Linked DNA regions of Homo sapiens: all the other regions are linked to region 3. Evidence: fine-mapped expression QTL. A gene starts in region 3. Each other region holds a variant in brackets. All regions are shown on one strand. Distances are between the middles of the regions. Region 1 overlaps CEP63 (centrosomal protein 63). Region 2 overlaps KY (kyphoscoliosis peptidase). Region 3 holds the start of ANAPC13 (anaphase promoting complex subunit 13).

Region 1 (10,412 bases), 81 kb before region 3:
TGAACTCCAGCCTGGGTGACAGAGTGGGACTCTATAACCAAAAAAACAAAATCTTAGCAATATTATGGATAAATTTTGAATCTAATCAAATATTTTTAGATCCAGTGTTAAAAAATAATGAGAAATGCTAATTTGAAGAATTATATTTCTTGTTGGAGCAGGCACCCTGTAGCTTGGCATGAGAGGCAGCAGAGCATGCCAGCAGCAGACAGACATAATTGTCTGACACATCACTAGATAATAGTTTTGGCCTTGTTTGTAGTGTTTAAGTTTAGGTCAAGGATCCAAAATGCATCTTGAGATTTCAGAAAGACTCAGAAACTGTTGGATTGCTTTGTAAAAACAGATTTGGGACTGCTGTCTAGAGCTGTGCCCACCTGAGCTCTGTCTGGTCTCCCTGCAGAAGCCGCTCCTCCATCTCTCTTCTCACCCCAGTCCTAAGGAGCTGCACTTCGGCAGTGAGCAATTATCTTGGAGCACACAGAGCACCAGCTCCTCCAATAGTGCTATAGGCCCCTTGTCCACAGAGGACAGTAGCATACCCTGCAACTCTGCAGAGGAAATGGCTGAGTGGTCCAGCTTCTCCCTGATCATATGCAGCCAGCCCACGAGGCTGCATGTCAAGCATTGGGATTGTGACCTACAGAGACTGTAGTGTGCTTGTTCAAACCTGGTCTTCTTCCAAGAAGACCCAGGAGAAGAGCACTCACCATCCCAGGCTTGCCCTAAATGCTGTCCTAAATGCTGAGGGCTTCCAAAACCTCAGGGCCTAACTCTAACACAGGCAGAATGCTCTGATCTGTCAGATGCAGAACAATAGTTCTCCAAAATTCCAAAAAGTATGTCATGAATAAAAAAAATTAATATTACCTTGCTTGGGTAAGTTGATTTATTATCTCAGCCCATTTAAAGGCTAAGCTCTTACTTAGCCAGAATACCCAAAGCAACCCTAAGCAAAAAGAACAAAGCCAGAGGCATCACACTATCCAACTTCAAACTATACTACAAGGCTACAGTAACCAAAACAGCATGGTACAGGTGCAAAAACAGACACATAGACCAATGGAATAGAATAGAAAACTCAGAAATAAAGCCACATGCCTACAGCCATCTGATCTTCAACAAAGTCAACAAAAATAAACCATGGGGAAAGGACTTCCTATTCAACAAACGGTGCTGGGATAGCTGGCTAACCATATGCAGAAGATTGAAACTGGACCCTTACCTTTCATTGTATACAAAAATTAACTCAAGATGGAGTAAAGAGTTAAATGTAAAATTTCAGATTATAAGAAACCTAGAAGAAAGCCTAGGAAACACCATTCTGGACATCAGCCTAGGCAAAAAATTTATGACTAAGTCCCCAAAAGCAACGGCAACAAAAACAAAAATTGACAAGTGGGACCTAATTAAACTAAAGAACTTCTGCACAGCAAAAGAAACTTTCTACAGAGTAAACAAAATGGGAGAACATATCCTCAAACTAAACAATCTGACAAAGATTTAATATCCAGAATCTATAAGGAACTTAAACAACTCAACAAGCAAAAAGCAAACAACCCCATTAAACAGTGAGCAAAAGAGATGAACAGACACTTCTCAAAAGAAGACATACAAGCAGTCAACAAATATATGAAAAAATGCTCAACATCACTAATTATCAGAGAAATGCAAAAGAAAACCATACTGAGATAACCATCTCCTATCAGTCAGAATGGCTATTATCAAAAAGTCAAAAAAACAACAGATGCTGGTGTGGTCGCAGAGAAAAGGGAATGCTTTATACACTGTTGGTGAGAATATAAATTAGTACAGCCACTGTGGAAAACAGTTTGGAGATTTCTCAATGAACTTAAAACAGAACTACCATTTGACCCAGCAATTCCATTACTAGGTATATATATAAAAGAAAATAAATCATTCCACCAAAAAGACACATAAACTCATACGTTCAGCATTACACCATTCACAATAACAAAGACATAGAATCAACCCAGGTGCCCATCAATAGCGGATTAGATAAAGAAAATGTGGTACATATACACCATGGAATACTACATAGCCATAGAAAAGAATGAAATCATGTCCTTTGCAGCAACATGGATGCAGCCAGAGGCCATTATCCTAAGCAAGATAAGGCAGGAACAGAAAACCAAATACTGTATGTTCTCTCTTACAAGTGAGAGCTAGACATTGGGTAGTAACGGACATAAAGATGGCAACAATAGACACTGGGGATAGAAAGAGGAAGAAGGGAGGGGAGCAAGGGTTGAAAAACTGTCTATTGGATACTATGCTCACTACCTGGGTATTGGGATCATTCATATCCCAAACCTCAGCATCATGCAGTACACCCATGTAACAAACCTGCACGTGCACCCCCTGAATTTAAAATAAAAGTTGAAATTATTTTTTAAAAAAAGACTAAGTTCTTAGAGTCAAGACTGACATTAAGCACAAATACTGCCTCCTGTAAACAAGTGAATGTTCGCAGGGAACCAACATGACCAGGCATGAGATAAAACATAAGTAGGCCTCTAAATTCTTAACCTGGAGTCCACAGACACTTCCCAAGGATCCAAGGATACAATTTAGGGTTCCATGAACTTGGGTGGGAAAAACTGACATCCTTATTTTCAATAACCTCTGACTGAAATGTACTTTTCTTCCATTATGAGTATAGGCCACAGTGCTAGCAGTACCTTTAGCTTTATTCCAATAGAAATCACAGATATTTTCATAGCTCATTACAATTGTGATGGACATATTAAAACATTACTTTCATATGTCCCCACTTCAAAAGCATGGTAGGTGATAGACCTGCCACTCAGTCTTGTTATTTAATGAGTTAACAAAGAAGTGCATATAATACTACATCACAAATTTGTTTTTTCTTAGGTTTTCATAACTGAATGATGATATTTTATTTTCCATTTAATGCTTTGTATCTTTTGTTGTTGTTGCTGTTGTTGTTGTTGTTGTTGAGACAGAGTCTCGCTCTGTTGCCCAGGCTGGAGTGCAGTGGCACGATCTCAGCTCACTGCAAGCTCCGCCTCCTGGGTCCACGCCATTCTCCTGCCTCAGCCTCCCAAGTAGCTGGGACTACAGGTGCCCGCCACCATGCCCAGCTAATTTTTTGTATTTTTAGTAAAGACGGGGTTTCACCATGTTAGTCAGGATGGTCTCGATCTCCTGACCTCATGATCCACCTGCCTCGGTCTCCCAAAGCGCTGGGATTACAGGCGTGAGCCACCACACCCGGCCTTTGTATCTTACTTTATGCACTTAGTCATTATTCTGAGGGGTCCATAGGCTCCTCAACTCTGCCAGAGGCATCCCTGACACACAGAAGGTAAAGAACCTCTAAGTACCTAAGCCACCAGCTCCCATTCCATTTGGGAAGCAACAGAGGAGGCTGAGGCAAGATGCTTGCCAGTGGGAGGGAGAGAGGGCACTCCTAATCCCATTCAGAGGCTGACCTGGCTCTGGGGAATTTGACTTGCTGTGTTTTCCATTCTGTTTTGGCATATTCTTAAAAAACACTTGATGTGATTTGGTTGTGTCTCTGCCCAAATCTCATCTTAAATTCCCACGTTGTGGGAGGGACCCAGTGGGAGGTGGTTGAATCATGGGGGCAGGTCTTTCTTGTGCTGTTCTCATGACAGCACAGAATAAGTCTGTGATGAATAAGTCTCATGAGATCTGATGTTTTTAACAAGGGGAGTTTCTCTGCACAGGCTCTCTTTTTGCCTGCTGCCCTCCATGTAAGATGTGACTTGCTCCTTCTTGCCTTCTGCCATGATTGTGAGGCTTTCCCAGCCAAGTGGAACTGTAAGTCCATTACACCTCTTCTGTAAATCGCCCAGTCTCAGGCATGTCTTTATCAGCAGCATGAAAACAGACTAATACAGTAAATTGGTACCAGTAGAGTGGGGTGTTGCTGAAAAGATACCTGAAAATGTGGAAGCGACTTTGGAACTGGGTAGCAGGCAGAGGTTGGAACAGCTTGGAGGGCTCAGAAGAAGACAGGAAAATGTGGGAAAGTTTGGAACTTCCTAGAGACTTGTTGAATGGCTTTGACCAAAATGCTGATAACTATATGGACAATGAAATCCAGGCTGATCTGGTTTCAGATGGAGATGAGGAACTTGTTGGGAACTGGAGCAAAGGTGGCTCTTGCTATGTTTTAGCAGAGACTGGTGGCATTTTGCCCCTACTCCAGAGATTTGTGGAATTTTGAACTTGAGGGAGATGATTTAGGGTATCTGGCAGAAGAAATTTCTAAGCAGCAAAGCATTCAACAGGTGACTTGGGTGCTGTTAAAAGCATTGTTTTAAATGAGAAACAGAGCATAAAAGTTTGGAAAATCTGCAGCCTGACAATGCAATAGAACAGCAAATCCCACTTTCTGAGGAGAAATTCAAGCCAGCTGCAGAAATTTGCATAAGTAATGAGGAGCCGAATGTTAATCCCCAAGACAATGGGGAAAATATCTCCAGGGCATTTCAGAGGTCTTCACAGCAGCCTCTCCCATCACAGGCCTGGAGGCCTAGGAAGAAAAAATGGTTTCATGGGCCAGGCCCAGGGTCCCCATGCTGTGTGCAGCCTAGGAACTTGGTGCCCTGTGTCCCAGCCACTCCAGCTGTGGCTGAAAGTGGCCAACGTAGAGCTCAGGCCATAGCTTCAGAGGGTGCAAGTCCCAAACCTTAGCAGATTCCATGTGGTGTTAGTCCTGCAAGTGTGTAGAAGACAAGAATTGAGGTTTGGGAACCTCCACCTAGATTTCAGAGGGTGTATAGAAACGCTTGCATATCCAGGCAGAAGTTTGCTGCAGAGGTTGGGTCTTCATGCAGAACCTCTGCTAGGGCAGTGCGAAAGGGAAATGTGGGGTCAGAGCCCCCACACAGAGTCCCCACTAGGGTAGTGCCTGGTGGAACTGTGAGAAGAGGGCCATTGTCCTCCAGACCCCAGAACGGTAGATCCACCGACAGCTTGCACCGTGCACCTGGAAAAGCCACAGTCTCTCAATGCCAGCCCATGAAAGCAGCTGGGAGAGAGGCTGTACCATGCAAAGCCACAGGAGTGGAGCTGTGCAAGACCATGGGAAGCCACCTTTTGCATCAGCGTGACCTGGATGTGAGACATGGGGTCAAAAGAGATCATTTTGGAGCTTTAAGATTTGACTGCCCC[G/A]CTGGATTTCGGACTTGCATGGGGCCTGCAGCCCCCTTGTTTTGGCCAATTTCTCCCATTTGGAATGGGTATATTTACCCAACGCCTGTATCCCTATTGTATCTGAGAAGTAATTAACTCACTTTCGATTTTACAGGCTCATCGGCTCAGATTTGCCTTGTCTCAGATGAGACTTTGGACTATGGACTTTTGAGTTAATGCTGAAATAAGTTAAGACTTTTGGAGATTGTTGGGAAGGCATGATTGGTTTTGAAATGTGAGGACACAAGATATGTGAGAGTCCAGGGGTGGAATGATGTGGTTTGGCTGGGGCCCCACCCAAATTTCACCTGAATTCCCACGTGTTGTGGGAGGAATCTGGTGGAAGGTGGTTGAATCATGGGGGCAGGTCTTTCTCACGCTGTTCTCGTGATGGTGAATAAGTCTCGCAAGATCTGATGGTTTAAAAAGGGGAGTTTCTCTGCACAGGATCTCTTTATGCCTGCTGCCCTCCATGTAAGATGTGACTTGCTCCTCCTTGCCTTCCGCCATGATTGTGAGGTTTCAGCCACGTGGAACTGTAAGTCTATTACACCTCTTTCTCTTGTAAATCACCCAGTCTCAGGTATGTCTTTATCAGCAGCATGAAAATGGACTAATAAAACACTTAATACTTCAAATATTTTGGATCTCTGGAAAACAGCTTGAGAAATGTGGATTTAAGGAATGACTTTGCCTGGGGAAGCGTCTGGAATTGCTTGGTGTTGTTAAACAATGGGTTAATGTTAAACCTTTTTGGAGCAAAATAAACAGATCAGGTGATGCCTTCTTAGTCTACAAGCCATAGCTCATGCAGGAGGTAGCAGGTTGAACATATCACCAATCTGGAACCTTTCCTGTCCTTTGCCCATGGTCCAGAATTTATTAATATGAACAGGCTACTGCTGGGGTTCCATGCTGGGCTGAGGGGCCTGTCTTCCAGAAAAGGGGATCCTTGGGGAAGCACTGAGCTCCTGCCCCAGCCACTGCCCTGTTGGGTTACACAGGAACCTGCAGGGTTGCAGTGCATGCTCCTGTTGGGACCAAGGGCTATGCTTGCCTGTGGCTGAAGAAACTAACTGGGAGATAACACTTCCGGTCTTGTTTGTTGTATTTTATTTAAGTTGGGGATCTGAAACACATGTCCTAGGTCGCAGAAAAGTCAGGGACTGGTGGGCTGTTTGGGTTTATGCTATACATCAATGGCAAGACAAATCCAAGAGCTGGCCCACTGAGAGGCCCCCATTACCTCCCAAAGCTGGTGCCACAGAAATCAGGACAGCTCTGGGAACTGATGATTAGCCCATCCACAGTGGATGCCTGTCAAAGGGATAGCCACTCCAGAAAAGGACTAGGAAGACTAGTTTCAAAGAGTATCTTAGCTCATCTGTTTCTCATAGCCAAAGAAATAAAGCAGGTTTAGGTAATGTACTTGGCTTTTCTTTCTTTACTTTGCCCAGTCATGCTTGTAGAGATACTGAGGGACTTGCTAAGCAGTCTTAGGGCAGAACTTCAATATGCTCATATTCCACATCAGTGGTCTGTAACCCTCTAAAGTGTTTGTAAACAGTCCTCCTCTAAGCACTGAGGTTAGCGCCAAGCATTCCTGCAGCTTCTCCTTAGAATACACTTAGCCAAGACACTGCCTGGCTGATGAGTGGCCTTTGCTGCCTGCAACCTCGCCTAACAGGAAGCAGCACCAAGACTGAACTCCCACCCGGAAGAGCAGGAACCCCTGCGGTGTGCAGGCCCCTGGCCCTCTGCCCCACAATATTGCACAGTGCAGAGCCACCCCACACCACAAGCAATGATTAACAGAGCTTGAACATCCACTCTCTCCAAGAAAGGTACCGTTACTCCTGTGAACTGAGAGTTGAAAATAGAAAACTTTAGAATAGCTTGTGCTATATGTGTTGTGGTATTCCCTTAATATAAACTTGATATTTTTAAGGAGCTGCCATGCATCAGAGGCTTTTTTTTTTTTTTTTGGTAACAGTGATTAAGATATAATTTACATACTATATAATTCACCCATTTAAAGTACACAATTCAGTTGTTTTTAGTTGTTATATTCAGAGTTGTGCAACCATCACAATCAATTTTAGAACATTTTCATCTCAAAAAGAAACCCCATACCCTTTAGTCTTCACCTCCCAATCCTCCTATCCCCACCCCATTTCCCACCCCAACCTTCCGCCGCCAATCCCTAGCAACTACCAATCTATTTTCTATCTCTACAGATTTGTCAATTCTGGGCAATTCATGTAAATGGAGTCATACAATATGTGATTTTTTTTTTTTTTGCTTTCTTCCTGTTTTCAAGGTTCATCCATGCTGTGGCATCAGTAGTATAATACTTCATTCAAATCTTTTTGCTCCCAAATAACATTCCATTACATGGATATACATTTTGTTTATTCATTCATCAATGATGGATATTTAGGTTGCTTCCACTTTGGTGTTATTGTGAATAATGTTGCTAAGATCATTTGTGTACAAATTTTTGTGTGGATATATTTTCATTTTTCTTGAGCATATATTTAGGATTGGTATTGCTGGGTAATATGGTAACTCTTTTTGAGGAACTGCCAAACTGTCTTCCAGAGTGACTGCACTATTTTACATTCCCATCAGCAACATATGAGTGTTCCAATTTCTCCACATCATCTTCAACACTTGTGATTGTCCATTTTTTTTTTATTATAGTGGATGTGTAATGGTATCTTATTTTGATTTTGATTTGCATTTCTCTGATGACTAATGATGTTGAACATCTTTTCATTTGCTTAATAGCCATCTGTACATCTTTGGAGAAATGTCTATTCCAATCTTTTGTCCATTTTTGAACTGAATTGTCTTTTTATTATTGAAAAGCTTAAATTTTGAATGACTATTCAACTGCACTTTAAAATTCAGCCCCAGAAGGGAGAGGTTGGACTCCTCCAATTTTATGTCTCTCCCCAGGAAATGGGATACCATTCTGGGACAACTCTAGTCCCTAAAGCTATGGTTTTTAATCTCTTTTTGATTCACAGACACCTTCAAGATTCTAATGAAAATTATGAACCTTCTCCCCAGAAAAATGCACAATGCACATTTTTTGCATTTAATATTATTATATTACTATTATTAACATTAATAAATGTTTTGCATTTAATATCAAGGAGTTTTAGACCTTCCCCTATCAACTACTGCCTTACGTTCTTTTTGTAAGAGGAGTGCAAAAGTTCTTCTGACTGGATGATTGTCAAATAATTGAACCTGGTCTTAATGGGCAACATAAAATTCCCAAATTCTAGTTCCTCACAGAGAGGGAAAAAAAAAAAGATGTGAATTGTATGTCTGAATTATCAAAATTGCACTGCGGAGAAATAGCTTTTACAAAAGATTGGTTTAAAGCAGTCTATCATCCCTCTAAATTTTCCCTTTTCAGGCCATGAGAGCTTTACGCAATCATGTTTGTGGCCCTCTCAGAACAGTTTCCTCTGAATTTGGATGTCAGCCTTATGCCATCAACCCACAGTGAAGCATACTGTGGGGGGAGCTGTGCAGATTATTATTACCAGTTATGAAAATGTTGGACTTCTCTTCTGGATACTCACATACTTTACAAAACGCTTATTCAAACACACAAAAAAAATCTGTGCTTTTCTTAAGTCTATGATTTTTTTTTTTTTTTATCTTATGGGCACCATAAAACTTTTAGGTAAATGTTTTCTCCTCTGCTTTTCCCCCTCTGAAGCTCAGAGGTAACTTGGCTGCCTTCCTCTAGCAACTGGACTGGACAACTAGATTCATTAGTGAATCAATGTTTACAGCCCTCATTTTCCCTCTGCCCCGATTCTGTTTGTTACTTTTTGATGCATTTATACTATTTCAAACTGTTTTGGGACAAGCTGACACATTTCTAACTTTTTCTACATTTCAGTGCTGTTCATGACAACTGTTTGCTTAACGTATGTTCTCATGCCATAGAGCTTATTTTATAATTATCTTTCTTATCTGCAACTTTTAGGTACTGGACTCGAGTGTTTTGCAAACAGAAAATCATCACCCACAGTTTACCAGGTGTTATGTGTATGTAAGAGAGAGAAGGTAAGAATTGTTTGGGTTTAAGCAGATGTCACAGAAACAGAGTGTTGTAGTATTTTTTCTACACTTGTTGAGATCAAATGAGTCTGCAAGGGAAGGTAATGTCCAGCCCACAGTGGGAAGTCAACTTTGCCCTCTTCAGCTAAAATCTGCGTAGGAATCCAGATGAAAATTCATGGGAATCCAGGACAAGAAGAATGAGATGACTTGCCCAATAAAACATTATCTGTAAACACCAGATGTAGACTACAAATCCCTAATCTTTTCATCTCATTTGGGTACCCTGATCACGGACAGATTTTGGAAAATGTGTGTTAAGACACTAACTCAGATTTAGTCTTGACACATTTTAATATTTGGTATTAATATATCTTTTTGAAAAATGGTGAGACATTAAATTACAGTCAAATGTTCTGACAAATTTGGACAACCCATTAACTATTAGATACTTCAGCTTTAAAAAACAGTATAATTTAAGGAAATACATAGTACCTCATGATTCCTTAAGTATTTCCGGTGACTACAGAGTCTGTCATTGTTCCTCCTAGTCAACACGTAGTACAAACGTTTCAGAAACGGGCTGCAGTCTACAGATTTTAAGCTGAAGCTTGGGACTGTCTAAAACTCAGAAATCTCCTGAATGTAACAGCAATGCACATAGGTACAGTACTTAAAACTGCAAAGCCCTTTCAAATATATATTTTCAGTAAATCTTCTCGACCCCATTAGATATTATTTCAGTTTTACTGATAAATACAATGAAGCCTTGAATGGTAGTGATTTTCATCCACCCAATATTTGCTTAGGATCTGTTATGTGTTAGGCAGCATGCTGACTGAGGATGTAGGCAGGACTTAGCCCCTGAAAGACAGAAATCAAAGCGGATAGCAAAGTCTGGTCAGAGCCACACACAGGGTGCCATGACAGCAATGAGGAGAAACGTTCCCTGACATGGGTCAGGGGATATGGGAAAGCTTTGCCAAGCCAGATAAAGTAGCCAAGTAAAGGGGGAGTTTTAGGAGCACATGACAGGGTGTGGGAAGAGGAGACAAACTGAAGGACAGCATGCACACCAACACAAAAGAAACGATGTGGTGCACCTCAGGAATGGC
Region 2 (10,412 bases), 130 kb before region 3:
TCTGCCAAGGCCTGCTCTTCCTCTCACCACTTGCACAAAGAGGTGATAGTTCCCAGATCCCATTTGTGCTGGGGCTGTAGTTCCATTCAGCCCACTGTAGTTTCCTGGGGCTGGTGATGGCCAGAGCACAGCTGGGGGTTGGGGTGGAGTCTTCTCGCCTCCCAGGCTCAAGCTCTTCATGATCCCCTCACCTGCCCTATAGAGTATGACATTGCAGCTGCTCAGGAGAAGGACCGCCAAGCCTTCAAACCCACTGACATCCTGCGGACCCAGAAGACCAACTGTGATGGCTATGCTGGCCTCTTCGAGAGAATGTGCAGGTACGAGAGACAGGAGTCCCCATGCTGACCACCGGACCCATCCCTCTCCCTCTTCCACAGTGCCATGTGCCTTTGCCCACATGCCAGGCCTGAAACCTGAGTTTACAAACTCTGCTCTGGAACCCAAGTGAGTCCTGAAAAGGTCAATTTCTCCCTTTTTAACACCAGCATAATTGACTTTGTACCATCTGCCGGGCTTCGCGATGCATTAACATAATGGTAGATGAATGCACAGAGATAATTTGGTTATAAAAAGCCCTTTTTCCGCCTTCTCCCATCTCTATGCAGCTGAAGGTTAAAAGAATGGCAGGCCTGGGAGCGGGAGGACAGTGACTGCAGATGCCAAGGGGACTGTGAAAGGCTGTCCTCAGGGCTGACACAGGGAGCCTCTTTTGGGGGAAACAAAAGATCTCCCACCTGAAAAGATTTGTCAGTTGGACAGCTGAATCACTACGAAGCGGCTACTCTTGGAGTCGCTGGGCTCCATTTTCAGCACTCTGGGAGTGGGCATATGGCCAGGTTGCTGGGGTGGGTGACAGCTCTGGCCTGAGCAGGAGAACAGGCCATTGCCAGTTCCCAGTGACTCAAAACAGGCTCAAGATGTGGGGTGGGGGGAGGGGATGGCCACTGACCCCCACAGCTTCCTGAGCCTACCCTCTGAGGTCTGCTGGGTTCCTCCAGAAAACAGTCAGCTAGCCCTGGGGCCATCAAAGAACCCCTCCCCAGGGGGTGGATGAACAGCGGCCCACTGTCTTTCTAGGCTTCTGGGAGTGAGTCTTCTTAGGCACCCAGATGTCAGCCCACCAGAACTGCAGGTGGCAATTCATCAAACCAAGTGTAACACTTAGTCCACAGGCAGGCAGTTGTGATGGCCTCAGTGTTGCAGAGGCGGCAGCTGCCGAGCACTGGGTGCATGCAACCTATTCCTGGCCCAAACCCCCTGTTGTGCTGCCTCCTGCCCCCATCACCACTGCCAAGCACAGGCACCTACCCGGCTGCTGAGTTACTCTAAGCCTCCTGCTCTGCTTCCTGTACTTCCCTTTTCTCACTTTCAAGGCCAATCCCTGAGACCACAGCCCCAGACGCAGCCACGGTGGGTCAGGGTACAGAATATGCCACCCAGGCTGCTTCCCACCCCCTACCCCAGACCCAAGCATACCTCCTGCTGCCTGCAGGCCTCTCCAGGAACCTGGATCCTCACTGGCCTCTCTGTCCAGGCTTCCCTGGTCCTGGGTTCCTAACATCACTAAAGGATCACACTATCTAGCAAAGTCCTCCAAAATCTGACCTCAGCCAAGTTTCCAGCCCTGCACTGTGTGACACCACCTTCCTGACCACCTCTGCATGCACACCTGCTCCCTCTCCCCAGAGCTCCTTCCAGGCCCCGCTCCAGGACAGCCCACAACCTTCCCCTTCCTTTGTACCCCCAGCCCAGTTGCACACCAAACTCATGTGTTGCCTTATGCTTTCAATTAATAACATTTTTAAATTTAAAAAATACCATTCATTGTAGATGGTTTATAAAATGCACTAAAGCAAAAAAGAAATTATTACTCTGAATCTCACCACTTACAGCTAACACTGGTAACATTTGGTCATATTACTTTCCAGACTGTGTTCTGTGCATACAGGAATTACCTGTGCTCGGTTGTTGTCATACATCCTATCGATTGTATACGTCTATATTTGCCTTTATCTCCTCTCTCCTTCTACCTCCCCTGCGAATACCCATCTCAGAATCCTACACCCAGTAGGCCCTCAATAGACATATATAGAAATGACAGGATATTCCTAGCAGACTTATGTGGAATGGAATGTGGAATTCTCTTTTAACTGATGAAATAGCCACAAGTCTCTTAGCTCCATTTGTGCCTAGCATCTTTCAGAACATGATTATTTTCCTCTGATTTTACAAATTTGAAAAATGCTTAGCATTTTTTCCAAGTTCCAGGATATATTCCTCTTTATCCAGTATAAGCTTTCTAGCATACTGTAGAAGGAATGCCAGATTTGAAGCTAGAAAGACCTGGGTCTACCACTTAGAGTGGTATCGCCTCCTTGATCCAGTATAAGCATCCTAGCATCCTTTAGAAGGAGTGCCAAAGTTAAAGCCAGAAAGACCTGGCTCCCAGTTTTTAATTTACCACCTATTAGTTTTGTTCTTTGTGGTAAGGCCCTTAACCTCTTGCAGCCTCAGTGCTCTCATCTATATATTGGAGACTAGATTGCCTACCTGGCAGGGCTATAGGACTCAATGAGACTGCAGTTTGGGGGTTACCAACCCGATTTTGGGGTGGGTGTTTTTTGACCTATCTTGTCTTTCTTGAGTATTGATTGGAGTCCTTTTGCTCTGTGGAGTTTTCCTACAGACTCTGCCAGCCTACATAGATTCAGAAAATTGACACTTGCCTTGAGTGAAACTGTCAGCTTTTTGCCCTGGTCCAGATACTTAACAATGGCCCTATTCTGGCCTGCAGCTTATCATTAAAACTCTCCCTAACATTTTGCATCATTTAAAATTAGTTCCAACATGGTGATTACCATGTGCAAAATTCCTCACACTGCCTGAGATGTGTAGCAATAGCTCACGGTCCCCTGAATTCCTTTAACTGTTTCTTTAAAGATCAGTAACCTATCTATGCATCCCTCTACTAACTCTCTTTACCTTTAAAATAACTGCCAAAAGTTTGGTAAATTAATTAGCTAATTCCTTAATAACTGAGGACATATAATCCGCACTTGCTGATTTATCCCTTCTTGGTTGTCAGGGTGGACATCATTACTTTTTGCCAGTCCATTCCACCTCCCTGAAATTGTCTCATTAAAGACTGATTTAATAAAGTAATTTGGGGAGGAATTCAGATATTTTCACAACATCATTCAGTTCCTTCTGTCTGTCCCAAGTCACTGATGTGGGGTTTTTTGGTTAATGCTATAGCTTGTAACTGCTGGTCCAGTTTCCTTCTGACTTTCTATCATCCAACATTAATGTCTCTCTTTTTGCCTCAGTTGCCTGCATCCTTAGTTGATTCTGCCTAATTTCCTCGCAGGAGCCAAGCTTAATTCCCCAGACTGCTGCTCTTGAGTCGGCCTCCAGTAAATTCTCTTCCCGTTAGCATGGCTTTAGCATCACCAGCTAGCAGGTTTCAGAGACGTTGGATAAAGCCAGGCACTTATTACGAGTTTGAGCCCTGACACTGAGGGAGTTGGTTGTCACCAATCAGATGTCAGCTGGCTTTCCACTCATCCTCCAGCTGTCACTGAGAGCAGGGGCAGGAGTGTGTGCAGTCAGATGGCTGCTTCTGGTTAGCAGTATGTCCCCTATAATCCTAAAACATCACTTGGTTCCAAAGGCCCCAAAAGATAGGCAGTGGCCATCTAAGCCTTCTGGGAGATGCAGATTCATTGGATAACCTTAAATTATCACCAAATCTGATGCTGGTGTATAAGGCCTCTGAAAGGGACATCTTAGCTCCCCCACCCTTATAGCTACACCAAAGGATGGCACTCACAAAGATGAGTTATGTCACTGGTGCAAACCACCTTTCCATTTCACTCTCTATACCACCTACAAGTGTATAGATCAAAACAAAATCTTGATTTACAAAAGAGCTGGTGCAACATTGTGCACATGTATCCTAAAACTTAAAGTATAATAATAACAAAAATAAAATAAAATAAAAAGAAAAAAGAAAAAAAATTAACTTACCATGTCAGCTATGAGGAATATGAGGTCAAATGATTTTTCCATTTTCCCAATAGATGTTTTCACACGTGAAAAAAAAAAAAAAAAAAAAAGCTTCTTGAACTATGCATCAGGACAACTGCATCCACTGCTGCTCCGGCCACTGGCTAGCTGTGTGTCCCCAGGCAAGGCAGCCTCTCTCTCTGAACAGCTGACGCCTCCCTCACCTTCAGAGAGGAGGCCTCTGAAGTCACGTCTCATGAGGTTCTGCATGGGGCCCTGGAGAGAGAATTATTATCAAGATTACTAGTTATTGACGTAGCTGTAAGGGTAGTGTGTAAGAAAAGGGAAAAGAGAGCACATGGGAGAAATATAAACACACTGTCAGATTATAAGAAATCAAGTACATAAATTGTGAAAGATAAGTCATGGTTTGTTTGTCCTGCTGCAGTATAGAAACCACAGTATTTTCAACAAAATACCAAAAGAAAAGCATACTTCATAGTCTCTCCTACAGGCACACTCCCTCCCTTTTTCCCTCACTTGGCTCACACATCCTAGGAGAGGTGATCAGATTTGGGAAAGTCTACTGCGGTCAGAGCCCATTGGTGTAGGGTGCACCTGTCCACCCAGATATTTCAGCCACACAGCTGTTGGGGCCTGGCCTTGGTACTGACTGTAGGAGCATCATACAGTTCCTATGGCAGGGCCTGGACCATCTCAGTATAAAATAATACCAAATTAATACACTAGGATACAGTGCACCAAACTGGAACACACAGATCTTTTTAAATAATAAGGATAATGCATTCATAGAAGACTCAGCAGCTTCAGGGTTCATCAAGGGTAACCCAGGTAATGACATTGCCTTCTGCTTGGCTGCCCCTCTGTTCAGTCTCTTCCCATCAGGCCACATTTGGTGGCCATGTGGTCCTTTGCAGCCCTTGGGGCTTCTCTGATTGGGTCCCTGAGCCCTGATATTGCTGGAGAGTGGGGGCTGCAGCTTTCTCCAAATCCTCCAGGGTGCTCCTTGGCAGCTTGTTCAGGGCATCTTACATCCATGTTTTCATTGTGGCTTGGGATATATATCAGCCATGAGCTATGGAGGCAAAATTGAGGTTGTCAATTCTGTAAAGTAGAAGCGAAGATTCTGCAGTCTGAGGTCATTAAATAAATCTCCTTGGGTGATATTTTAGGCTCTGGGATGGCTGGTCGGAGCTCTTCAGGAGGTGGAAATGTTTCTAGTCCTCGGCCCCTCCTTCCGTGCTCTCTCAGCTCCTGCCTGCAAAGTTAATTCCTCCACCTTTGGGCTCTCCAGGTCTTTGCTTATAGACTGGGATTTTATAAGCAAAGTTCTGGAGACAGTTCCAGTGACAGTTCCCATATCCACCCTCCTTCCAACTATCAGCACATCTAGGGCAGCCACTGAGCCTTATTTTGGGGATATGATATTTTTTTATGTTGTTACATTGTGTTGCGTTGTATGGTGCCATGTCATGTTATAGCATTCCCTGCTACAGTGCTTTATACACAGTGTGTGCGGCCAGTGATCTTTTGATGACATGAAAGAGTTGTGGTTCATCCTGGCTAGCAAGAGTGGCTGGAGACAAAACTCCTGTGGGTTCCACAATCATCGTCTTATACATACAGAGGATTTTGCATGAGAATTATGGCATATTAACAATAATGCTTTACATTATGACCTTCTTTGTCCAATTCATCTGGCACATTGCTGCCAGGTAATAAAATATCCTCATATCAGAGTCAAGCATGGCATAAGCTTATAACTGAGTTTATATTTTCATCTTTTTTCTGCCCCAGGCATTCCCCACAGCCTTCCCAGCTTCTCCTCAGCCTGTCAGAGAAGAATCAACCCCTGGAGATCATTTAATGCCAACATTTCTCTCTGCCCATGATAAGCCTGGCAAGGTCACTCTAGAGGTGACCACCAGACCTGGGAGGTGACCTTATTTCCTGGCTCAGGGGCCATCACCCCCACTCAGAGCAGTACAGGTGGACATCCCTGCCCCTTGCTTCTTCCTCCTGCTCTCCTTTCCAGGGCTGGGGCAGGCTCTCGCTGCTGCTCCCTGACTTGGTTTTTCCAATCTTGCCTCCACTTCACTCCCTTGAGGGCAGGATGTCCCCCTGGGCACACGGCCTAGGACATGGCTTCTCCCAGGAGGACATTCCATACCCATTCTGATTTACCCCACCGCCTGGAGGCTGCACAAATGCTAAATTCCTCTCCTTCCTTCCTTGACTCCAGGTGGCTCTGAGCAGAGGACAAGCATCAGTGGGCAGCATGTCCAGAGGTCCACAGCGCCGCTAAATCAGTTCACCTTAATGCAAAACGAGCCATTCTCCAAGCCCCATTGTTCCCAGGACTCCCCTTATCCCTCCACATCATCCTAGAAAGTGATATGCACAGACATTCTAGGCAGCAATGGAAAGTAATTTCCTGAAGAATATAATTTTAAGTAGTATTTATGGCTTTTTTTCCAATTCTCAAAGTAACACATAATCATTATTAAAAATTTAGAAAATACAGAGAAGTTTCAAGAAAAACATTAAAATCACCTATAATCCCATTGCCAAAAGATCAGGTGCCTTTTGTGCCATCTCTCCCCCTCTCACTCCCTGCCCCTCCTTCTCTGTGCATGCAGGCAACACACACACACACACACACACACACACACACACACACACACACAGCATCGGCGTGACATTGTGCTGACTGGAGAGATTGACATGCTGTTGTCAGTTCACATCGTGTCAGGGGCACTGCTTAGCTCACTAAATATTTTTCACAACATTTCTTCTCCTCACCCAGTCTCTGAGTAGATGGGGCCCCACCTCCTATAGAATGTCTATCCCACCCCTACACCTCTACCCACTCCTCTGGCCTTGCTTTCCTCTGGTCCTTCTCTGCTAGCTGTTTCCTCTCAGACTATAAACACATCCAGACTTCCTCATCCTGAGAACAACCCCCTCAGCCTTGCATCCCCTCAGCACTCCCCACCACCTTCTGCTCTCTGCACTGCAGAGAAATGAGGAGAGAGCACTCCAGGTATGCAGGCTGCCCCTTCTCCCCTTCCTTCCACGGTCTCCTCAGCTACTGCCTCCTTCTGCCCTGGAGTGGCTTATGGCCTTTGCCAGCAGAAAATCACAACACTGGGATCTAGTTTCTCTTGCAGTCTGTCCCCATGCCCTCAAGTGCTCCCAGAAGCCATCCCACAGAGCCAAGCTGGTATGTTCTTATGGGATTC[C/T]TTAGAGGGCTTAGGAGGCCTGAACCTCCTTTTGTGAAGCAACAGGCAAAAGGGCGGGGGCTAGAAAACTTCCAAGCCCCTAAGGAACCTCAGCACTAGTGGCCCGGACTTTCCACAGGTGAGCAGAGGTTAAGGCAGACATGGTAACACCTCATCATTGCATGCATGTGAAGAAACACTGATGGCTGGGAAAGTAGAATCTGTTAACCCTCAGGACATCACATTTGATCCCAATGACTCTCTCAGCAAGTGATATGTATTAGTAATATTTAATCCAATATTTTGCTAATTTTAAATTACATGTTCATTTTTACAAGGAAGATTCCCCCAATTCCTATAGTAGATGCATGGCCATTTCACCCCATTCCCCTGGGAGGCTCCGTGGCCCTCTTGTTTAGAGCAACTGAGGCTGCAGCCCTGGTCTGTGGAAGGGCCCAGCCCCATGGGCCCATCTCACTGAAACAGACCCCACCAACACCCTGGACTGCAGACTCAGCTCAGCTGAGTACAGCACAGGGTCACCACTGAGTTGGGGACTGAGCAGCTTGTGTGGTACTCAAAGGAGCCCCATCAAAGGGGCATCAAGCACATCCTCGGTTTCACAGGTTGTGTATCTATTACACCAATTTTCCATGAGTGCAAGGAAAATGTCTTGAGGAAGGGGAACCTTTTCTAATTTACACAAAGGCCCTAGGAGGGCTAGCATGGGATGTCCCTAGGTCAGACTAGCAGTGAAATTGTCTGCACAGTCCATCCCCTTGGCTGTCCTCAGGGGAGCAGGGCTGCTGAGGAGCAAGACCAGCTGGCCATGAAAGGACACCCAGGGGTCTTGCTTTGGCCTTGGACTGGTGCCCACAGCCCAGGCCTGGGCCTCAGGGTTTTAGCTCCAAATGTCTCATTTTATATCTTCCCCAGAGGTGACCCATGCCCATCTTCCCATCCAGGTTCCCAGAAAGCAGTGCCAGCTCTACTATGAGCAGTGAAGGAGCACAATGTCAAAAGGACCCCAAAGCTCAGGTTGACTGGTCGGCATTTCCATTCCCCTCAGGACAGCCACAGGAGACTCCAGAATTGTGGCCAGGGCAGGCAGTCAGCAAATGACCTTAATGCACCATGATGGCTCTTGCACCATGTTCACAAAGGACAGACCCACCAGTCAGACCTGAGCAAACTGGCAGCTGGCCAGTCCTCCCTGGGCCAGGGCTGGAGACATCCACCGCCTGCCCCGGGGTTCCCCTGCAGGCATCCTTGGGAGGAATAGCAGGGGGGTAGGGCTTGGCTTCTGTACCCTCACAACCAGCAACCCCACAACACCTCACCCATGTCACGAGACCCATCTCTTCAGTCGCATGTCCAGAAGCGCCCTGGTTCTCCCAGCAGCTGTGCTCGCCCCTTACATGTAGGTTTTGTTGCAGGAACATTGTCATTTCCCCTGCTCCTATTTTCTTGAAGCCAGCCTCACGCTTGCCCCCATTTTTTCCTCCTGAAGAGCTGCTTGAGGAGCGTGTCAAGCAGGCTCTAGGGATGAACATTTCAGAAGTGATCTGAATGGTGTTGGTCTCAGGGGAGGAGCAGACAGCGGAGACTGCAGCCAGTCTGTACCAACAGGACCAGCCAGCACTGTATCTCCCTGTCCCCAGTGCCCCGAGATAAAAGCCATCAAGGCTGTTTATATGTGAGTACAAGAAGCAAGGAAAAGGATAGACAGGGAGGACTGATGGGCAGCAAACATGCCTGAAACCTGAGACCATGGACAGACTTGGAGGCAAGCCACAGCGGGATCCCCCTCTCAGACCCCCTGTCCTGCCCCCAGGCTCGCCGGAGTGCAGTGTATGACCGTGCCTGGCTACTCCAAGGGTTTCGGCTACCAGACAGGGCAGAGCTTCTCGGGGGAGTTTGACCATGCCTGGAATGCTGTGTACCTGGAGGGAAGATGGCACCTGGTGGACAGCACCTGGGGCAGCGGCCTGGTGGACACCATCACCTCCAAATTCACCTTCCTGTAAGTACTTGTCTCAGTTCTGCTGGGCGTCTGGCAGGTGGAAGTGGAGGATGTGCCAGGCAGCATGAAGCAGCAGGTGGAGAAGACCAAGCGGGAGGGGAAGGAGAGCCAGGAGGCCCCATGCCCACTCCTCCTCGGCTCTGAAGTGGGCTGGCTCCAGGCCAATTGTGAGGGCCCAGACCCTTTTGTCACCTCACCCTCCACTGACAAACTCCCCACTCTGACTCCCTATAACTCCCTCCACCAAAGCACTGAAAGCCTGCAGCATTTGCCCCCAGACCACACATGAGGAAAGGTGGGCTAATAGCCTTCTTTAGTTGTTGGCAGGTTCCCTTCCAGACTTTGGCCATTGACCACATTACCAGGCACAAATGCCAGAATGATCTCTTACTGCTTTGCCCAGACACCAGGCTCCTTCTCCTCTCAGGTCTGAGTGAGACCGTATCACATTTCTGAGGAAAGGGCTGTGGTTTTTGGGGAAGGGGTGCTATTGGCGGTGCAGGGTCACTGTGAGGCACAGTGGGGCAGGGCAGCCGGGGTGCAGAGGACTGGAGCATTTCTGTCCTCTGGGGCTCTGGCCAATCCTGGCCTTAACCTGAGGCTACATACAATATTCTTCATGGATCATGATGTTATCAGCAGCTCAGATTCCTTTTTATTCAGAAACATGAGTGTGCTCTCTCGATTTTTGCACCTTAAATCTTGACACTCCCACACATGGGACAAATACAAGCCATGTGCACACACATCCTACACGCAGGGCTCGCGTACTCACAGATACCCTCTTTACCTCTGTTATTCTCAACACTGCTCCTCTTAGGCAGAGCAAAGCCACCCCCATCTCAGGAAGGGCCTCTCTGTTCTTCTCTTGATCCCCATTACTGACATCCAGAGAGGCAGCACTCCAGTCGGCCCTGGAGAGCCACAAAAGGTCCCCGCCAGCACAGCTGCACAGCACAGAAACAGGTTGGGGTAGATGGAGGCAGTGAATTCAAGCACTCTGTCTCCCTGCCTTCCCACGACCCCACTGCGTGGTCCACAGGCTATGCCTTTCCCCCCTTTGAACTTCTGATTGTCTTTGAGCATGAGGCAGTCAGTTTTCCCCTCGACAGCCTAGGGCACTGAGTGCAGACCACAGT
Region 3 (10,412 bases):
TAAATAAATAAATAAATAAATAAATATAAAATAAAGGGTAAGATACACCATGAAGAAAGGTGACAGTGAGAAAGGAAAGAGGACCCTTAAACTCAGTAGTGTTGATTAATATGTGTATGCTTCTCGCCTTTTATAATAAATCTTCAAAATGTTCAATGTCAAACCACTTTTCATTCCAAAATGCTTTTTCCTTAAACCCTTAAGACAATAACCAGACTGTGGTGTAGAGGTTCTGCCCCTGGGCTAATCCTCATCTAAAAATTATACTGCTGTAAGAAGTAGATTATTTTACTCAACACGTAATTCAATGTTGTACTAACAACTAGATATATAGTGATGAAAGATATGGCCCCTTTCAAGGTATTAATAGTCTAGTATGGGACAGAAAAAAATGAGCCAAAAAGGCTTTCCCAGTGTGATAAATATAGTGAGAGACATGCCCAGGGTGTTCCAGAGACACAGAGGAGAATGAGAAGACTGGAAAATAGAACCACTGCACCTTATTTGCATCTATTTTTAAAGATACTAACAAACTGAGTATTAAATTATTTGTGCACAAACGTGACAGGGAGGATTTTTTTTCTAGTTGGTTTATCCTACATATTACACCAAAATTGCAAAAATAAAAACCTAAAGAAAAAGGTTCCCATGTTTTACTCCACTTTCAAATCACAATACAGTCCAACTACAATGCAACCAAGATTCCATGTTTTGGTCCACTCTAGGAGAACTGGGAGGCAGTACACGGTCCACACCACACTAGATGGAGACCCAGGATACAGTCCTACTCTGCAACTAACTAGCTTTATATTCTCGGACTTGTTTTAACATCTGCAAAATGAGGGGCATGAACAATATTCTCTAAGGTTTCTTCCAGCTTTTTCATGGGTTCTAACAGCCAATTAAATGTCCACTGTAAGTAGCATGCTCCTGACAACCATACACGGATACTTAACTAACATGTAGGAAAGTGCTATTCTTATTGACAGTGCTATCACAGTTATTCAAAATTATCATTAGTAAAATTATACTTATTTAGGTCATGTTATTCTTAAACATTAATATATTTAGTAATATACATTAATATATTTTCTATGACTATTTAATAATATACTTAGAAGTTAAGTTACTGAATGTTCAACAGCTGCCTTGTACACATTGTCTAAATCAATCTTCACTATACTCATAAAAGACAGATACTATTACTTTGAGAAAACAGGCTTAGAGAGTTAAATAACTTGACTATGATAAACTAAAAATTATAGTCCTGGATTCAACCTAGACATTGTGGCAATCAATTGAGTCACAATCGATGTGCAACCTTTATATATTTTACAGTATTCTATATCTTAAAATATATCAGCCTATCTTTTGGCTTAATAGTGTCTTTGCAATAAAAAAAGAAATTAAACTGAAGTATGACATCACTACTGTGGCCACCAGGTGGCAGCAGCACAATAATGAAATAGTCACATAAGAAATATTGCTATTTTAGAAATCAAAATGGTCTAAGATAGAGATTCCTGTTTAAAAAAAAAAAAAAAAAGGAGGGAAGTGGACCAGTAATATCCTATGTGAGAAATAAAGTAAACTTACTAATGTGCAAAGTGTTTCTGTAATACCTTCACCATCTGCCTGGTGCCAAACACCATCAATTCTCAGGATCAGGCAAATAGTAAGGGCTGATTTTCTGTGGATGTTTGTCATCTGAGTTGCTCATAGTTATATCACTGATTCTTTTCCTAACCAACCTGACCATCATTCAACTCTATGCACTATGTCACTTTGATTTCTTCTTTGCATGTGCCATATAATTACATAAAATTAGACCATCCTGGCTAACACGGTGAAACCCCGTCTCTACTAAAAATACAAAAATTAGCCGGGCATGGTGGCGCGCGCCTGTAGTCCCAGCTACACGGGAGGCTGAGGCAGGAGAATGGCGTGAACCCGGGAGGCGGAGCTTGCAGTGAGTCAAGATCGCGCCACTGCACTCCAGCCTGGGCGACAGAGCAAAACTCCGTCTCAAAAAAAAAAAAAAAAAAAAAGAATACAAATAGAATGTCTTATAATAGGCAAATCTTTGAAATTCATTAACATAGACTTTATGAGCTAGAAAGCACTTCAGGCCTCTAATTTAACTTTATCATTTTACAGATCAGGAAAAATATCATAGTATATGCCCAAGACCAAATTATTCACAAAATGGGACACAGGAAGAAAATAAAAACTCCAGACAGAATTATGAATAAATGTGTACATACTAAGAGAAGGGATATGCCTAACCTTCAAGTCTAAAGGAGGATAACAATGCTCTCTGTCCCTGTACCTGCCTTGGTGTCGTTTTCATTACAAAGCTCTATGATTGTGTCAGATATACCATGGCCAGTAAACTATGGCTGTTCCGATGAACAATCAGTATTACTAAGCATTTTCCAGAAAGGCTCCTAATTAAACTGATACCAGTAAATAAGGTATTAGAGAAACTTTTCAAAATATTAAAGTTTTTAAAAAATTGTCCAAACTATAGTTCAAAATCCAGGAAGAACAATGAGAAAGTCTGAGAAATAGGAGTACATAAAAACAAACTTTTATATGAAAAAGTGCCATAAGCAAAGTTAACTGACAAATGACAACAGTACCTGAAAGTTTTACCACAAACGGTTAATTACCCAAATATATAAGGAGCTTATAAAAGATTAGGCAAAAAATCTATAGAAACATGGGCGAGAGGTATAAACAAGCAATGCACAGAAAAATACAAATGACAGTAAAAATATGAAAAGATGTTCAACCTTGCTCATAAGAGAAATACAAATTAAAACTACAGTAAGTTACCCTTTCTTCTGTACCAGATTAACCAAAAATTAAATGTTTGATAATACACTCTGATGACAAGGCTGTGGGACAACAGGCACTCATATACATAATAGGTAGGAATGCAAAATGAACACAACTGCTATAGAGGAGACTTTGGTAATACCTAACAACTGATATATGCATTTACCCTTTTATCCAACAACGCTACTTTTAAGAATCTATCCCACAGGCTCATTGGCAAAAATGCAAAACAACATATCCACAGGGATATTCACTGCATGACTATTTGTAATAGCAGAAAATAACACAAGTGTCTATCAAGAGGGGACGAATTAAATATTCATCCACCAATGGAGTACTACGAAACTGTAAAAAGGAATAACAATCTCTACATACTCCTAAGGAGGGGATCTACAGGACATATATCACTAGGTGAAAAACCCAAGATGGAAAACAGTATACATAATAGCACATTTTACCTAAGAAAGAAAGGTATGTTTGTCCATGTAGATTTGCTTTTAGGTATGTGTTTTTTTAATGGAAGGATAGACTCAAAACTAGTAAAAACAGTATCAGTAAGGAAGGAAAATAAGCAGAGTGGAAGAAACAGAGATGAAAGCTAAATTGTTTTATGGGTACTTGTTTTATGGGAATTATGCTAAGGTTTTGCATATAATAAAACAAATCAAAATGGGGAAAAAAGCAGTACTGAAAAATTGGAAACAAAATAAAATAAATCAACTACCAACTAGATATCAACTTGATAGGCTAACTATACAATAAATTACTTCATATGCCTTTAAATACAATAATTTTACTATACACTTTCCTAGAGACATATAAAATAAGGATAAAAGACAGTTGCAAAGAAATCCTAAGCACTATTCAGGAATCATATTGATAATAAAATAGCCTGTTAACTTGAAACCATTATATATAACATAGGATGAGGAAAAAAAACTAATTCTATTAATGGCACTAGGCACCAAGACTCAGCAAAAAAGATACAAACATAAATCCAACGTGTGAAAAAACTGTAAAATTAAGTTTAAATTTTGGAAATTTAAATGTTAAATGTTGGAAACAATGCGAATTTTGCATATTTGTGTTTTTTTTAATATATAATATTTCCTAACTCTGGCCACCATAAATCCTAGAACTAACGACTAACCTAGTAGCAAGAACACCTCTCCCACCTAGGTAAGACTGTGGTCTCCAAATACTATCTCAGACTCAAAAGAACCACGGCTCCTTGAAGACCAGAAATCTATAAATGAGCCAGGAAAATTATTTACCAGAAAGCAAGGAAATTACCAAAGCTATTGGTCATATCAAATGGAATAGGAGCCAACTTTAAGGAGCTCCCACTGGCCAAAGATGAAACAATTTGAGTATTAAAAACACAACTGCCATATGTTGAAACAGTTTAAATATAAAGTCTATAAGTTCATGATTATAGGTTTACAAAAAGGCAAAAACCCTCATGGTTACCTTTGGAGGCTGCTAGGCCACCAACTCATTACTGTGGTCTGAAAATAGAGGCAAAGAATTAAGCATTTTTCTTGCCTTTCCTGTACAAATTGTATTTCAGGGTAGTCAAACAGCTGGAAAGGGAAAGTTCTTCATAAAAGACTCTCAGTTGATAAATATTGAAGAAATAATAGAATTAGATAATCACCACGTTGCAACCTCTAATGCAATAACGGATACAGGCAATATAACCCCACAAAAGGACTTCACCACTAAGTGAAAGAGTCTTGGGGAATTTCACTATGGGTGGATGGAGCTAACTACACCTAAACCCAATATAATGTTTAATGTTAACATCATAAAAAAAGAAAACAACTCAGACACTGCTTCCCTGATAATTAATGAAATAGGAAGTATACTGCATTACCTATGAAATTATCTGTCCAACCCCCCCAACTATCCCACCAAAAAACAAAACAAAAACAAATATAAGGGTGAAATCTCATCAGGCTTCTAGAGCAGTGCTGTTCAATACAACTTTCTGCAATTATGAAAATATTTTATAACTGCACTGTTCAAAAAGCAGCCACCAGGCAATCTGTAGCTACCGAGCACTTGAAATGTGGCTAATGCAAGTTAGGAACTGAATTTTTTTTTTTTTTTTTTTTTTGAGACAGTCTCGCTCCGTCACCCAGGCTGGAGTGCAGTGGCGTGATCTCGGCTCACTGCAACCTCCACCTCCCGGGTTCAAGCGATTCTCCTTCTCCTGCCTCAGCTTCCTTAGTAGCTGAGATTACAGGCGCATGCCACCACGCCCGGCTAATTTTTCATTTTTAGTAGAGACGGGGTTTCACCATGTTGGTCAGGCTGGTCTCGAACTCCTGACCTCGTGATCCACCCACCTCAGCCTCCCAAAGTGCTGGGATTACAGGCGTGAGCCACCGCGCCCAGCCTAGGAACTGAATTTTTAATTTTATTTCACTTTAATTAACTAGCCACTGCTGGCTGGTGGCTACAATACCGGACAGTGCAATTCTACATCTAACTACTGGTTTAGAGCAGTGGTCCCCAACCTTTTTGGCACCAGGGACCTGTTTCATGGAAGACAATTTCTCAACACCGACAGGGCGGAAATAACACATTTTGTAAATATCTTTTTGTTAAAATTCATATGAAATGTTTTGGGGGAGGAATGGCCAAACCACTTTTTTTTGTTTTTTGAGACCGAGTCTTGCACTCTTGCCTGGTCTGGAGAGCAATGGTGTGATCTCGGCTCACTGCAACCTCCGCCTCCCGGATTCACGTGATTCTCCTGCCTCAGCCTCCCGAGTAGCTGGGATTACAGGCGCACACCACCACACTCGGCTAATTTTATTGCATTTTCAGTAGAGACGGGGTTTCACTATGTTGGCCACACTGGTCTCAAACTCCTGACCTCATGCCCACCTCGGCCTCCCAAAGTGCTGGGATTACAGGCGTGAGTCACCGCGCCCGGCCAACCACTTCTTCAGTAATATGAATAATACACATGGACAGGGTTAGGGGCATGGTTTCAGGATGAAACTATTCCACCTCAGATCATCAGGCATTAGTCAGATTCTTATAAGTGTGCAACCTAGATTCCTTGCATGCGCAGTTTACAATAGGGTTCGTGCCCCTAGGAGAATCTAACCTCACGGCTGATCTGACAGGAGGCAGAGCTCAGGTGGTAGGTAATGCTCACTAGCCTGTCACTCACCTCCTGCTCTGTAGCCTGGTTCCTAACAGGCCACGGACTGGTACTGCTCTGCGGCCCCGGGTTTGGGGGCCCCTGGTTTAGAGGACACAAAGGCAACAGAGATACATGTTAAAGGATACTGTGCGATGCAATCTGCTAAATTTAGAACTGTAAGGAAAAATAGGGGCTAATCCCATAGCTATAACTATGAGGGAACAAATATAGATTAAAAGATGTCAAATGTGCATCACCCAAACACAATAGGCAGATCCCTGTGGGATTTTGGTTCAAACAAGCTAATTGTAAAAAGACATTTAAGAGACAGTTGAAGAAATCGTTATCTGACTGGATATTGACATTAGAGAATTTTTATTAATTTGTGTATGTGTAATGACAGTACTGTGGCTCTGTAAAACTGAAAAACCTAGCTCCTGATGGGGGCGGGGAGGCGGACTAAAATAACATAAAGATCGGAGATTCAGTTCCTGAAACCTTCTGTCAATGTTGGCTTTAGCTGAATTTCAAGTCAAGTTGACATTTTTTGAAAGCAGGAAGCAATGACAGAGTGGACTACTGATGCTGTCACCATCTGCCAGCACAACATAAATTAGAACAGAAAGGACTAAGCAAAGGTCTTCCACCATTTTAACGAGAGGAAATGGCATCAGTACAATCAACATACACAATTTTTACAAACAACTTTTAGATTTGCATCTACATACATTTTAAAAGGCAGTGTGCCTGTTTATAAATCTCTACTCTAATTTAGTTTCAGAGCTTTTTACTACCCTGATCACTGATAATGCCACAGTCAAAAAGCAAACTCAAAATAAAAATCAATCTAAAAATGGTACTGCATGCCAAATAAGAAAATATATACACTTTATCATTAAGCTACAGCTAACAGAAATCTAATCAACGATCCTTATGATTTCCTCGTATCTAAAAAATAAATGCAAGCACTTGAGGAACTGTATAAATACAGGGCATCTACCCTACAATACTGCTTTATTAAAATAATAAATTCTTTTAATAAGTTTAACCAGACATAAGGCTCAGGGAAAACTACTCTGTGCATATCAGCGTACGGTGCTGAAACTGTAAAAGACGACCTGTCTCTGACATCATACTCATCTTTACTCTCCTGATGTCGTAAGGGACGTAAGAAAAACCACATTATAAGCCTAAATGTACTGTCTTCAAGTATCTCCATGATTAAAGTGTTCCTAAGAAACCGTCCTTATTTCTTTCTATCCCTCATTTGTGTGCATGGAGCCGTTAGTTCAGGGTTCTCCAATTTCAGTCCACGATTTATGCCACATTTCCGTACCTCTTGTACTAACATAACCGTTTAAACCAACTCACTATTTTAAAAGCTGCCAACCTTAACATGCCACACTAAATGAGCGGGTCCCCTTGTGCCGTGAATGAAGTAGTCCCAACAGCGCTAGCTAGACAGCAGCCCTGGCAGGGAGGCCGCACTGGGGTCTCTCCGCTGAAAAGGAAGGTGGGTCCGCCGGGGAAGGTGAGTACTGGGCGCAGCTCGCTCGCCCACCTGGCCACTCTCCGAAGCGCCCCCAGCCACCTGGACTCCGAGGAAGGGCTGACCACCTGGCGGGGCCGAACCCCACGCCGGGCTGCGCCACGCCAGACTCCGCCAGTGTGCAGGGCATAGCGGGCCAGGCCGAGGGACTGGGCTTCGGGGCGGACCCAAGCCGGCGGGGACGCGCCTGGTGGTTCGCAGGCCGTTGCGCAAACCGGCCGCAAGCCATGAGGCCGCGAAGCCAGAATCACCAAGGCAGCCTGGGCCGCCTCCAGACCAGGACACGGCAGCCCCTTGCCCCTCCAACTTGCGCACCGGCGGTTACAGGGTTGCCGCAAGCACGCCCCTGAGCCTTCCCGCCGTTACCTCGGGCCGGCGCTGCGCACGCGCGCCACCGCTAAGCTTACGTCCAGCCTCTGTAGTCGGCGCGTTTGTTCCGCCCACTGCCCCCACACTTTTAATAATTGAAACAATGCCTTCTCCAGACTTCCCCTGCACGCGAGCAAATGAACTCACCCACATCCGGGAATCCGAGGAAAGCGAGTGCAGACACGTGATGCGGGGGAGGGGGGGGGGGCGTGGCAGGAGCAAGCGTCTGCCGCGGTGGCCGGGTGCCGGTAAGGGTTTCCAGCGCCCCCGGCCTAGGTTTTGGAGGCGCGGGAATGCGTTCGTTGCTCAGTGTCGGACTTCCCCCTATTCCCATCGGCCGAGGCTGTCACTTTACGCTCATAACCGTTTTTCTTTACTGCACTCGTGTCGGGAGGAAAGGGACTTGCGTGGCACCCCCAGACCTCCCCGTCTCCGCTTCCACGTTTGGTACATCCTGCCTGAGGCAGGAAGCCGCAGCTGAGGGACGGCCTGTCGTACGGTGCGGATGGTGGTGGCCTGCGAGGCTCATTTCTAGCAAGGAACAAGGCTTTCCCGCTTTGATTTTATAAATATTATGTTTACAAAGCTGTAATATATAGAAATTGATAAGACGTGTCCCTGTCCCTGGAAACGCAGGCACCGCGTGTTTGGAAAGACATTCATCTGGGCTGTTTGACAGACTCCCCAGTTGGTGCCATGCTCTGTGCTTAGGGAACTGTGAGACCCCTGGAGGGGTGGGTACCGGGACCGCACTCAGCCTGGGGTTTGGAGGCGGCCTCCTATAGGAAGCGACCTGGGACCTAAGATTTTTAGACTGACTGTGGGTTCACTGGAATAAAAAGGAAGAAACAAAGAGCATTGCAGGCATCGGGACTGTCACGTGAGTAAGAAAAGTTTGTTCAGGAAACAGTGGTCGTACTGGGTGACGAGTACTTGGGACGGTGGCTTTAATACACAAGATAATCAGTGTGCCCTGGGCATTGATTATCTTGATGCTTCCCATCCTTCCAGCCCCTTATGAGGGAAGGCACCTTCGCGCCTAATCCCGGAAATGGGATGTTGACCTTCAAGAGCTGACGCCTGCGTTTATCTTGAAAGGAAGAGTGGCATTAGTGATGTGGAAAAGGGGGTTTTAACTGTCAAGGCTGGAAAATGTGACAGGGTTGGAGGTGTTTGGAGAAGGGACAGGTGAAAAAGATTGAGACCAAATGTGGAAAGATCTACTAAGGAATCATGGGTACAAAATGTACACGTAACAGTTGGAGGCAATAATACCTGAGCAATTGACCACAAAGCTGACCTAGCTTGTTTAGTAGATTAAGTTAGGACAAGAAGCAAGAGTTCAAGGATAGAAGGCCTACTGAAGCTCGAGTGATTTGAGAAAACTTTACAAAGGTGGAAAATCTACGTGGGCCTCCGAAAGTCAGGTTTGGATCAGCTGAGGAAAGTGAGAAGGGTATCCCAGGAGACAGAGCAGCAAGGACAAAGGAGTAGCAGCAGGAAAGTGGGGAGCACTTGTAAGACAGGGACTTCAAAAGTATAACCAAAACTTCGTCTTGCTTTGAGTTATCCACTGGGTAGTACTCGGTTAATTATTGAGTACTGGATTAATTAAGCCCTCACCTGGCTCACCGGTGACAGAAGTAGCAGGGCGCATTTTGCTTAACTTTTGCCGAGATCCTTGTCATGGGGGTGTAAACCCTTTCCCACACCAATCTGTGTATAATTTTTGCCAAGGTGTTAGGGATATCTTGCAGTTATCCTATGGGGGACAGCTGTGAGCCTTTTTGGTTTTTTTTGTTTTTTTTTTTCCGAGACGGAATCTTGCTCTGTCGCCCAGGCTGGAGTGCAGTGGCGCGTGGCGCTATCTCGGCTCACTGCAAGCTCCGCCTCCCAGGTTCACGCCATTCTCCTGCCTCAGCCTCCCGAGTAGCTGGGACTACAGGCGCCTGCCACCATGCTCGGCTAATTTTTTGTATTTTTAGTAGAGACGAGGTTTCACCCTGTTAGCCAGGATGGTGTTGATCTCCTGACCTCGTGATCCGCCCACCTCGGTCTCCCAAAGTGCTGGATTACAGGCGCGAGCCACCGCGCCCGGCCCTGTGAGCCATTTTTACAAAAACTTCCACCTGCCTTGGCCCAAACCTCAGCGTTCTTAGGCACAGGAGCTCATGAACATACTGAGATAACACTAAACTGGACTATGCGAAGGGACCAACTACAGACCTGACACAAATCCTCAAGGCAAGACGATGTCTGAAGTTGAGCTTGTAAAGGAAATGGCTTCCTTCCTTAAAATATCACCCAGGCTGAGCTCTGAAAAAAGCACCTCCAGATGGTGGGTTCCACCCCGCTCCACCACCCCAAAATTGCTTATTGTGTGAGTCTCCATAGTCTCAGAAACTGAGAGTACCTTTGATGCCAGTGGCTTCCGGGCTTTTTGGATTGTCACTTGGTAGCAGGGAGCACCCATAGGATGATGCCTATGATGAG

The links. PIP is the estimated chance that this variant, and not a neighbour inherited with it, causes the effect.
Region 1: its variant is the best candidate, but not a certain one, in a credible set for the expression of ANAPC13 in whole blood (TOPMed, PIP 0.72).
Region 2: its variant is the best candidate, but not a certain one, in a credible set for the expression of ANAPC13 in prefrontal cortex (CommonMind, PIP 0.88).

What each region holds. Positions count from the first base shown.
Region 1 is chr3:134,564,252-134,574,663 of GRCh38, reverse strand. It overlaps CEP63 (centrosomal protein 63), which reads right to left. Exons shown (of 15, transcript NM_001353108.3): 15 at 9,633-10,412. Among named protein-coding and RNA genes, the nearest start is that of KY, 82 kb to the left of the region's middle. The variant G/A (reference allele first, on the strand shown) is at 5,191.
Region 2 is chr3:134,609,056-134,619,467 of GRCh38, reverse strand. It overlaps KY (kyphoscoliosis peptidase), which reads left to right. Exons shown (of 11, transcript NM_178554.6): 8 at 203-320; 9 at 9,085-9,273. It also overlaps a transcript of CEP63 not described here. Among named protein-coding and RNA genes, the nearest start is that of KY, 37 kb to the left of the region's middle. RefSeq lists an enhancer at 1-57. The variant C/T (reference allele first, on the strand shown) is at 7,272.
Region 3 is chr3:134,483,707-134,494,118 of GRCh38, reverse strand. ANAPC13 (anaphase promoting complex subunit 13) reads left to right here and starts at 8,134. Exons shown (of 3, transcript NM_015391.4): 1 at 8,134-8,167. CEP63 (centrosomal protein 63) reads right to left here and starts at 8,062. Exons shown (of 15, transcript NM_001353108.3): 1 at 7,917-8,062. RefSeq lists enhancers at 7,130-7,948, 8,040-8,149, 8,230-8,329, 8,360-8,479.